3 separate regions of the Homo sapiens genome follow, and regions 2 and 3 are each reported to be linked to region 1. Evidence: microRNA targets listed by miRTarBase, many of them from high-throughput screens and not tested one by one. Region 1 holds a microRNA gene; each other region holds the end of a gene's coding sequence.

What was found. Region 1 holds the annotated microRNA hsa-miR-1179 (AAGCAUUCUUUCAUUGGUUGG, at 1,007-1,027, shown strand). A microRNA usually pairs through its seed, bases 2 to 8, with sites in the 3' UTR of a target mRNA and lowers its output. Matches are read on the target gene's strand: a 7mer-m8 pairs with bases 2 to 8, a 7mer-A1 pairs with bases 2 to 7 and ends in A, and an 8mer does both.
Region 2: miRTarBase lists NFIX as a target of hsa-miR-1179. Seed matches in the 3' UTR shown: 7mer-m8 at 1,247-1,253.
Region 3: miRTarBase lists LIN54 as a target of hsa-miR-1179. Seed matches in the 3' UTR shown: 7mer-A1 at 524-530.

Annotation. Positions count from the first base shown.
Region 1 is chr15:88,607,115-88,610,245 of GRCh38, forward strand. MIR1179 (microRNA 1179) reads left to right here and starts at 993; the gene lies at 993-1,083. It also overlaps a transcript of AEN not described here.
Region 2 is chr19:13,094,190-13,097,320 of GRCh38, forward strand. NFIX (nuclear factor I X) reads left to right here. Exons shown (of 11, transcript NM_001365902.3): 11 at 446-3,131. The coding sequence ends at 460. Among named protein-coding and RNA genes, the nearest start is that of LYL1, 7.1 kb to the right of the region's middle. RefSeq lists a silencer at 1,329-1,418 and an enhancer at 1,730-2,593.
Region 3 is chr4:82,925,518-82,928,648 of GRCh38, forward strand. LIN54 (lin-54 DREAM MuvB core complex component) reads right to left here. Exons shown (of 13, transcript NM_194282.4): 13 at 1-2,786. The coding sequence ends at 2,585. Among named protein-coding and RNA genes, the nearest start is that of THAP9-AS1, 26 kb to the left of the region's middle.

The sequences.
Region 1 (3,131 bases):
GGATTACCCCCACTTCTCACCTTGCCCCATAGACCACATAGAAAGCACAGGTAGAGGGAAACGTGTCTCCCTTAGCAGATGGACACTAGCATCACTCTCATTTGATTCCTCAAGATTCTCTTCTCTTCTTCCTCCCCAGCATCGCCTTCATAATTAGCAAATACAGCACCTAAAGCTTCTAATCCTCTGAGTTTTTCTGTTTCCCTTGATTGACAAACATTGACTCCACTTTCACCTGTCAGCCTTGCCCTGCCTATGTCCATTAGAAACATCTGGGTAGGAAATTATTTTACTCATAATTTTCCAAAGGCAGCTGTAACATTCTCAGAATGATTTGAGAGGAAATCGCTAGCAAGTTACCAGAACAGCCTGTGCTCTGTGCACTGTTTCATCTCAAATAAGTCTAAGTGCCATGAACGTTCTCTTTCCCGAAAAACAGCAACAATAACAACAACAAAAAGAAGTTTGTTTTAAACTGAGATATTACTTGACAACACGGGGTTGGAGAACATTTCTGTTTCAGGCAGGAACTGTGATATCTTTATCTGTGATGCCCTGAACCATAAACACACAGGTCTTTTCTTTTCTCCTCTTGTTCTCTTCTTTTCTCTCCATTTCCTTCATTTATTATTAATATAAGAATTTTTATTCATTATAATTTCAGCATAAGTTTAAAAGGTCAAAAATTCGCTCGGTGAACTGACTTGATAGTTTTGCGGGTATTTACATTAAAATGCTTTTAAAATGCTTTTCTCTCCCATGTTACTATAGAAACTTCCCTTTAGACCAGACCAGACAGCTGGTCTGCTTTTTGTACTTTTCTTCCCAAAGAAGTGCTTTCCTTTATGAATTGTCCGGGGCAGCTATCATTGATCACATCAGTAATGTCCCATAGCAACAGTTGTGTGGTTTTTTTTAATTATTATTCACTTTCTGCTTATTTTCTTTATGGACAAAGGGTCTACTTTCAAGAAGATAACTGAGCTCTTATTGGCTGGAAAGGAAGAAGCATTCTTTCATTGGTTGGTGTGTATTGCCTTGTCAACCAATAAGAGGATGCCATTTATCCTTTTCTGACTAGCTGAGTGAGCAGGGTACACAGAAGGATTGAATCTGCCTTAGTTCCATCCAGTAGCAAAGGACAGAACTCAGAGTCCTGGACTCAGGATCTGGAATTGACTTTGGCTAATCCAGATTGCACTGACTTGCAAGGATGACATTTTTTACCTACCTATTCGCAGCTTACTTCAACATACCTGCCTTATACATTGTCCTATGGCTTTTTTCCCCCTTCATTTTAGGAGATACTGTGATCATCTTTCCAAGTCAGTGCAGGTTATTGTTACCAGCACACTGAGGGTCCAGAGAATTTTGTGATTTCCCCTAAAAATAGATAATTGGTCCTCATTATTAGAGATTTGGTGAAAACTTTTGGAGATGAAGATGGAAAGCTAGAAGTCGGAAGAACTGCATTGCTTGTGATGCAGAATGGATATCTCAGCTTGTGGATTCACTCTACTCAGCTCTCAGCTTTGGTGTTTTGTGTTTGGTGTTTGGTGTCCTCTTCACTTTGATTTTTATTTGTCTGTTTTTCCACTTTCATTCTTCAGAGCTGCGCTTTTGGCCTGAATTTTCAGTGACAAATAGAAAAGCTGAATGGATGGAGACAATGACTCTTTAATTCAATGTAAGAGCTGACTCATCGCTTCCCAGGAAGACTTGTTGCAGGTAGGTGATGGTTATCCTGGAACTGGAGATTATCCCAGTCCTTTGTTGCACTGGCAATGGGCAGGTCTGTTTATTTTTCTCTTTTTTCCTGCACCAAATAGTCCTACTCAGGGATGCTGGCATTGGTCCCCACTTCCCTAAAAGAGGGGAAGTCAAAGTTCTTTCCCTTTCAGGACAGAAACTCTCTGATAACAGCCCGGAAGAAGTCTTAATGTGAGTACAGACCACTTCAGTCAGTCTTTTTTTGGTTCTTGGCAGGAGGGGATACTGGGAATGGATAGATGCCTGATCATCACGGTGCTATCAAGAGCCATATTCTTTATTGGCCCCATCTGTGCCAGAGTTCAGCGGTACCATGAGCCCTAGTGCTAGACTATTAGCCCTTCAATATTAGGAGCTATGTCTTGTACCCCTTTGATTCCCTCAAACTCAGTTGTGCTTAAAGTAGGGCTGAACAAATGTTTGAACTAAATCCTACTGGCTAGTATTAAGACAAATAGCTTATCTTCTTCTTTATGAGAATGGTAGCTCTAGACCTGGACCCTCCCCCTCCAAATCAAAAGCTTCATATTCCCTAGCCCTCTTCACAAAAGATAAATTAAGGCTCAGTTAATTGTTACCATGGTAACATGGAGTGGCCACATTGAGGATCCCCATCATCCATTACTGTCATGAGGTAAAAGAGAGGAGGGGTTTGGGATCATTGTCATGGAGGAAACCATGGAAACAAGCGTTGCTAAGGGAACAGCTCTAAATTCAGAGGAAAGAAATTAGAAGTGGGGAGTGGAAGTTGGTGGGCTCAAGGGCAGGTCATTTTTTCAAAATATATTTCTTTGAGACTACAGCAGCCTCTTTTATTGCTTGCATCTTCTCCCAATTCAGATAGAGCCCAGAATTAAAGAATTTTGAAAACTAGGGCCACAATCAGTTCAAATTCATCTTCATTGGATCTGTAAGGAAAAAGCCAATGAAAATGGATTTACCCTGTTCACACCTCACAATCCTACTCTGTCTCTGAACTCTGCTTCTTTGCCAACCAGTTTCATTTATCACGGGCCAGGCTGTGCGCGAGGCACTTGGAAGAATAATGAGTGAGAGTCCCTGCTCTCATAGTGAGCTTCTAGCAGGGCAGTGGTTTGGGTGGTGGCTTTAGGGCCAGGGTTGCTCATGTAAGCTAGATCAGTCAGTCCTGCAAGCTGACATCCAGAGAGATGCTGTGGTTCTCTCCAAACTCTCTTTGTGGTGCATTTTAGCTTGTCTATTACTTCTCAAAGTTTATTTGCCAGGTCCCTAAGAAAGGCCTGTTTTTCCTAGAAATACCTAGGGTGCTAAGCTCTCCTATTAACCAAGGGGTTACCTTAGTTAGCATTGTTCTCTAATGGTACCCTCAGGTCCTTGTCTCT
Region 2 (3,131 bases), not on the chromosome of region 1:
GAGACAGAAAGAAAACTCAGCAAGAAGCTGGGCCACCCCCAACCCATTCCTAAAACCCCTCTGGGTACAAAAGCCCCAGCCTGGCATCTTCCCCACCCTCCAGGACCCACACAAAAACCTAAACAATTGGAAACATGGCCAGATCTCAGGCCTGTGCCAGCGCCAGCCATGGGGGTCCCACCCGCTGGGCACAGTGCCCACGGGAAGGCCAGCTGGACTCTAGCACTAGGGGCAGAGTCTCTGAGGGGGCGGGGTTCTCGCAGGAGGGAGGGAGAGAATGGGGATGCCCTTTCTTCTCCATGGGAACAAGGTGGGTGGTGGCTGCCCGGCACCCTGGCTCTTTGGGAGCTGGACCCTTGAGGGGCCAGGTCACTGGGCCAGGTAGGAGTGAGATGGGACCTGCCCCAGCTGTTCTCAGTATCGCCTCTTTTTCATCCTGTTTCAGTCCTGGTTCCTCTGATAAGATCGACAAAAGAAACAACAAAATGAGAAGAAGAGGTTCCTCGAAAGGGGGGAGAAGAAATTTTGAGAATGGAAAAATCCCCCAGCCCAGCCCAGCCCCACCGAAAAGCAAAAATTACACGTCGTCAGCCACTCAGCCCTTCTCTCCTCCAGCCCGGGGACCCCCGCGGGCCCCAGAAGCAGCCCAGTTCTCAGAGAGCCCTTGGAAGGGGTCTCGGTGGAGCTGTGCACCAGCAGCCAAGCAGAAAGAAACACGCGACATGGACTCTGTCAAGTAGAGGACAGAAAGCAAGAAAGGATGCAGAACTGCCTTCCTCCCCCTGACCCCGCCCCGGCCTTCTGGGGAAGGAACAAAGTCCCCAAACAAAGCAACCAGCACAATTCTGAAGGGGCCTGGCCTCCACCCTCACCCCTTCCTAGGGGAACCCCACCCTCCACACAGCCGGAGCTGCCCTAGGGAGCCTGGAGGGCCAGCTTGTAAAGATGATGGGGTTTAGATCCCTCAGGCTCTCCCCTCCAGACTCCGCCCTTCCCTCCCTCCCTCCCTCCCTCCCTCTCTGCCAAGGCTCCAGCTTCTTCCCCCAGCTGCTCCCGACCAGGAGGGGGAGAGCAGCCTCCACTTACCCCACCCCACCCTTGGGCTAAAAGCCCCCAGGCGGGCAGGGGGTGACCCCTGGAGCTAGTTGCGTGTCCCAGAATGGAGGGTGTTCTGACACCCCACCCTGAGCCGCAAGAGCAGTCCTGGGGCCCTGGACCCCTCTGTACAGTCCGTAGGAAAAAGTCGGAATGCTCTCGACGGCCTCGTCCCAGCCTGGGACAGGCCCCCTTTCCCCTCTCTCTGCAGGCCAGGAGGGCCTCCTTCCTGCCACGAGGGAGGGGAGTCGGGCCCCAGGTCGCCCCCGCCCCCAGCCCTGCATGCAGGTGCCCTCGCTCCGCCCCATCAGTTCCTGCCCCTGCCCCTCATGCAGACTGCCCTGCTGGGGCCGGGCCGGAGGGTGGAGCAGAAAGGGGACCCCGGAGCCGAGCGAGGAGGACCAGGCAGCCGCCGCTGCCGCGCTAAGCCACCACCTGCGCTTAGGTAGGCGTCCTGCTCGCCGACTTTCAGTTCCTTGGGAGGGTGTTGGGTGTCGTCCTTTTCAAAAGTGTTTTGGAGCTTTCTGTGCCCCCCGACTTTCCCCCGCCTCCCCGCCCCCCACGTGGCCACTTTTCTCTGGATTTTAGCTGTAATGTCTTTACTCTTTATTTAGGGGTGGGGCATTCATTGTTTGGGTCTTTTGCTGTTGGAATGGGAACTCCTCCTCCATTTGAGCAACTTGGGAACAATTTGGTAACACACCACAGGAAGTAGCTCTCCCCCCCAGCCCCCTCCTCCCTCAAGGGAGGGTTGGGGGGCCTGTCCAGAGGGTCTTCAGAAGCCCCCCTGGGAGGGAGGGGAGGATGAGCACGCCCAGCTCCCCTCCAGGGTGTGACTTGGCCCCTCTGGCTTGTCTTTCTGTGCCTTACTCCTCCTCCTGCGTCTCCCGTTCCTGGCCCCTTCTTGAGTCCTTGTGCCTCTCTCTTTCTCTCTCTTTCTTAATTGTATGAAAACACAAAGCACAGGTCAGGATCCTCTGAGAGAAAATCAACATTGCACCACGTAGGGGTGGGCTATGGGCTGTATTTATTGTGAATCTAGTTTGTGAGGCTGTGGCCCCGAGCTGGCGGAGGGAGGGAAGAGGAGGGAGTGACGGGAGGGGAGGAGGTCAGCGACCTGGGGCCGTAGCGGCAGGCGAACGGTGCCTGCTACCCAGCTGGAAGCCACAAGGTGGCTGGCTCCAGGGGCGGCTTTTGTTGGAAGTTGAGTGAAGCCCTCCCCCTGTCCTCAGCGTGCAGCCCTAGAGGACCCCAGGGCTGAGGGGCAGTGGATCCTGCGGGAGTCTCCCGGGGCGTGGGGAGTAAGGCCCCGGGGGTGGGGGGCCGGGTGGGCCGGGCGTGACGCGCGGTCAAAGTGCAATGATTTTTCAGTTCGGTTGGCTAAACAGGGTCAGAGCTGAGAGCGAAGCAGAAGGGGCTCCCTGTCCGGCCCACGTGCCCTTTCCCTCGACGACAGTCGAGGGCTCGGGCTCTGTGGGACTGTGGGAGCTAGGGTCTGCGGGGCGCCTGCCCGGGCGAGGTCGGAAGCTGCAGGCCAGCTGGGCCCGGGCCGGAGCGTGCCCGGCGGGGCTGCCCGGGCGGGCAGGGGGTGGGGGCTGCTCCTTTCCCAAGTGGTGTTGTGAGGGGCAATGAGGGCAACAGGAGATGTGGGGACGTGTTAGGAGAGAAAAAAAAAAAAACAAAAATATATATGGGGGAAATTAACTTTTTTTTTTCATTGAACCAAGTGCAATGCATCAGAGAGTTTTCCTATCTTTGTATGTTAAGAGATTAAGAAAAAAAAATTCTATTTTTGTTGTAATGTCCTCGCGGCTCTGGGGACGCTAAAAGAACCGGGCCTGCCCCGCCCTGCGCGGGGATAACGAAAGCTGAGTGTTTTTCCCTTTTTTTTGTTCGTTTTTAGTTTTTTTTTTTTTAAGTCGTTTTCCTGCGTTGACGAGGATGATCTGGGGTTTTTATTTGTTTCGTCGTTCGTTCTGTTTCGGTGGGAGGGCTGAAGGAAACGTTCACATTTTAGAGTTTAAAAAAAACACCTC
Region 3 (3,131 bases), not on the chromosome of region 1:
CAGTGGGGAAAAAAAGAGAAGACATATTCTCATTTCAAAGCAATTTATGTTAGTAATAACTGAGCAAAATGATAGAATTTTTTAGTTGTGTGTTTTCAGAAGTAATGTCAAATTTACTTCAGATAATTTAAAAGGTTTTTTGCATATTAAATGGTTAATAAAGTGGTGTTATTATACTAAAGAAAAAATGCAAAACCTTTTTTACAGAATAGTATAAATGTTTATTTTCTGTATGATTTACTTTGCTGTCCTGTTTTTACAATATAGAAAAGTGTATTCTTTGAATAGCTCTAGTAAATATAAATTTAATCTTTCTACTTTGGGATGTAAATAGAGCTAAAAAATTATATACCCAACCCTCCCCAAATAGTCTTTTAAAATCATTGAATTAATGTGGCTATTCATCTTGTTCAGCAATTTGATGCAAATGCCTGAATACAAAAAGTTATTTAGTAAGTACTACACAGGAAGGAAAAGGCTTAATATTTTAGATAGATAGATTTTTGAAAATCAGAAAAACTAGTAGCATTTGATTGCACCTTGAAATTTTTTTACAAGCAAAACATTCGTAAGCAATGCCATCATACATAATCTACAATTGTAATCAAAATTTCACGAACATTTTCTGCACACTGTATATAAATACACATCACAAAGGTGCAATTAGAATTAACACAGAGTATGTACAAAATGAACAAAGTTTAAGTTTAGACCAAAAACTTATTGCAATCTTTTGAAAAATAACTTGATTATTATTTTACCCTCTTACACTAATTTACATTTATACAAATTTTAATTAAACATACTAGATTGAGGTGCTAAGAATGTTTGAACTATCTACATTTAAAGTTACTGCACTATGATTTTATAAATCCAAATTTAAAAGGAAGATACTTTAGTGAATAACGGAATCCTCTTTTGGATTACTTAATTTCTATTGCCTATATCTTGCATGTTCATATGAACATATATACACACTTAATACATACAACTATAGAGTCCTTGTAGGAAATGAAATAATCATATACTAATTACTGATGATTAAGGTACCTAACAAAATGCCTGAATTCCAACATGGTTTTTTCTTGTCATAAAATCAAGAGTCCTGTCACAACAGGCTCTTAAATTCATAGAGTTTTTGAATACTGAAAATGATTTAGGTTATTTTAGTAATTATAGGAAAACAGACCTTCCAAATCACTGGCTGAAAATAATGCCATATTAAACTTCCCTTATAAAAAGAAATCCCACCACAATTTTGAAAATTTTGTTAGGAGGCCCATTTCTGTAAATCAAGTAAGAGTTGCGATTTGGTTTGAAACCTCTTAGTTCAAAAGTCTATAAAAAGGGCCTGGCACGGCGGCTTATGCCTGTAATCCCAGCACTTTGGGAGGCCGAGGCGGGCGAATCACGAGGTCAGGAGATCGAGACCATCCTGGCTAACACGGTGAAACCCCGTCTCTACTAAAAATACAAAAAATGAGCCGGGCATGGTGGCATGCACCTGTAGTCCCAGCTACACGGGAGGCTGAGGCAGGAGAATCGCTTGAACCTGGGAGGCAGAGGCGTTGCAGTGAGCTGAGATCTCACCATTGCACTCCAGCCTGGGCTACACAGCGAGACTCCGTCTCAAAAAAAAAAAAAAAAAAGTCTGTAAAAATAATTGATTGTATAGATGAAAACTTCTCTAAATTCATCTTTTGCAGCTTCCCTATTCTTTGTTTCTCCACCCATGCCAAATTTTATACTTGATTACTATGTGAGGTTCTATATTATCACTACATAATGTTTACTTCCATTTATATCCACCTATCATTTTAATAGTACCCAGTAATCACTTTGACAATTTATTACTTCAAATACATACCACCTCTTTGAAAGAAAATGGAGACAGCCCAGAGCATCTGTTAGCCTTTCCTTATTATAGAAACACATTGCCCATCCTCTGAGATTTACTGTCCTTTAATATTTTATATGTTTTTTTAAATAACTTTAAAAAATTTTTAGTGTGCCTGGGGATTGTTTCCCCTTCTGACATTCCCAAAGTGACAACAGGATATTATTCCAGAATCGGCCCTAAAAGGCTGCTTTTTCTTTAAAAGATAGTCCTTTTCTAAATACAAAATGTCATTTGAATGTGTTTCATAAGAATTTGTTTATGTAACATTCTGTCTGCAGATATTCTAGATCAAGTCCCAAAGAATGGGTGCTAACCACTGCTGCTTTGGCTTTTCTATTAACAAAGTCATACAACACCATACATTATAAATTATATGAATTTATAAACATTTTTTGTCAAAGGTATCAGAAAGAGAACATCTAATTCTTAAGAAACCCAAGCAAATTAAAAAATCTATATAATAAAGAAAAATTCAATTTAGAAGGGGCATAAGCAGATTTAACTAAGATTTAAAATGTACTAATTTCCTCATTTAAAATTTCTTCTCCTTCAGTATTATAATTTCAGGTCTTTTAAAACAAGGACTGAATTAAAATACAGTAATTGTTTTTCTTCCAGAAAATCAAGTGTCCCTGCACCTTAAATTTTCTGTACAGTTCCATTTATCAGTCTTTTGTGCAAGAGTTAGCAATTCATGGCACAAGGGTCACTTTTTGCCTTTCCTGCAGAGTTGATGACACTCATCAAACATCGTCCGAATTCCTCAAGTATCATCCGTTCCGCTGCTGCCTTTGATTTTCCCTTCTTGTCTGCCTGCTCTGCCTGGGCAAGGAGGCAATTACATGTGGCTTCAGCTACTTCCTTAGTTACAAATGTAAATGGCAATCTGAAATGATTTTTGAAAGAGAAAGATGATGGTGGTGTTAAATAACAACAAAAGTGGATAACATTCTTTCATCTGGAAATCTCTACTGACACTTTCACAATTCACCAGCAGGATGAGCATCACAATTTACACAGTGAGCACAAGCACATCCTAAAAAGGGCTTTAAAAAGTTAAATTTGGTTTTATTCACATATTGTAAGAATATTGTTCAGGAAATTTAACATAAAACACGTTACTTATTACCTAGGCAAGGTTATGTGGTTAACTAAAAGATAATAGTCTACACGAAGACTAGAATTTCTTTAACTAAAATCCTCCTAAATCATGAATGTACGCTCTGTAAGT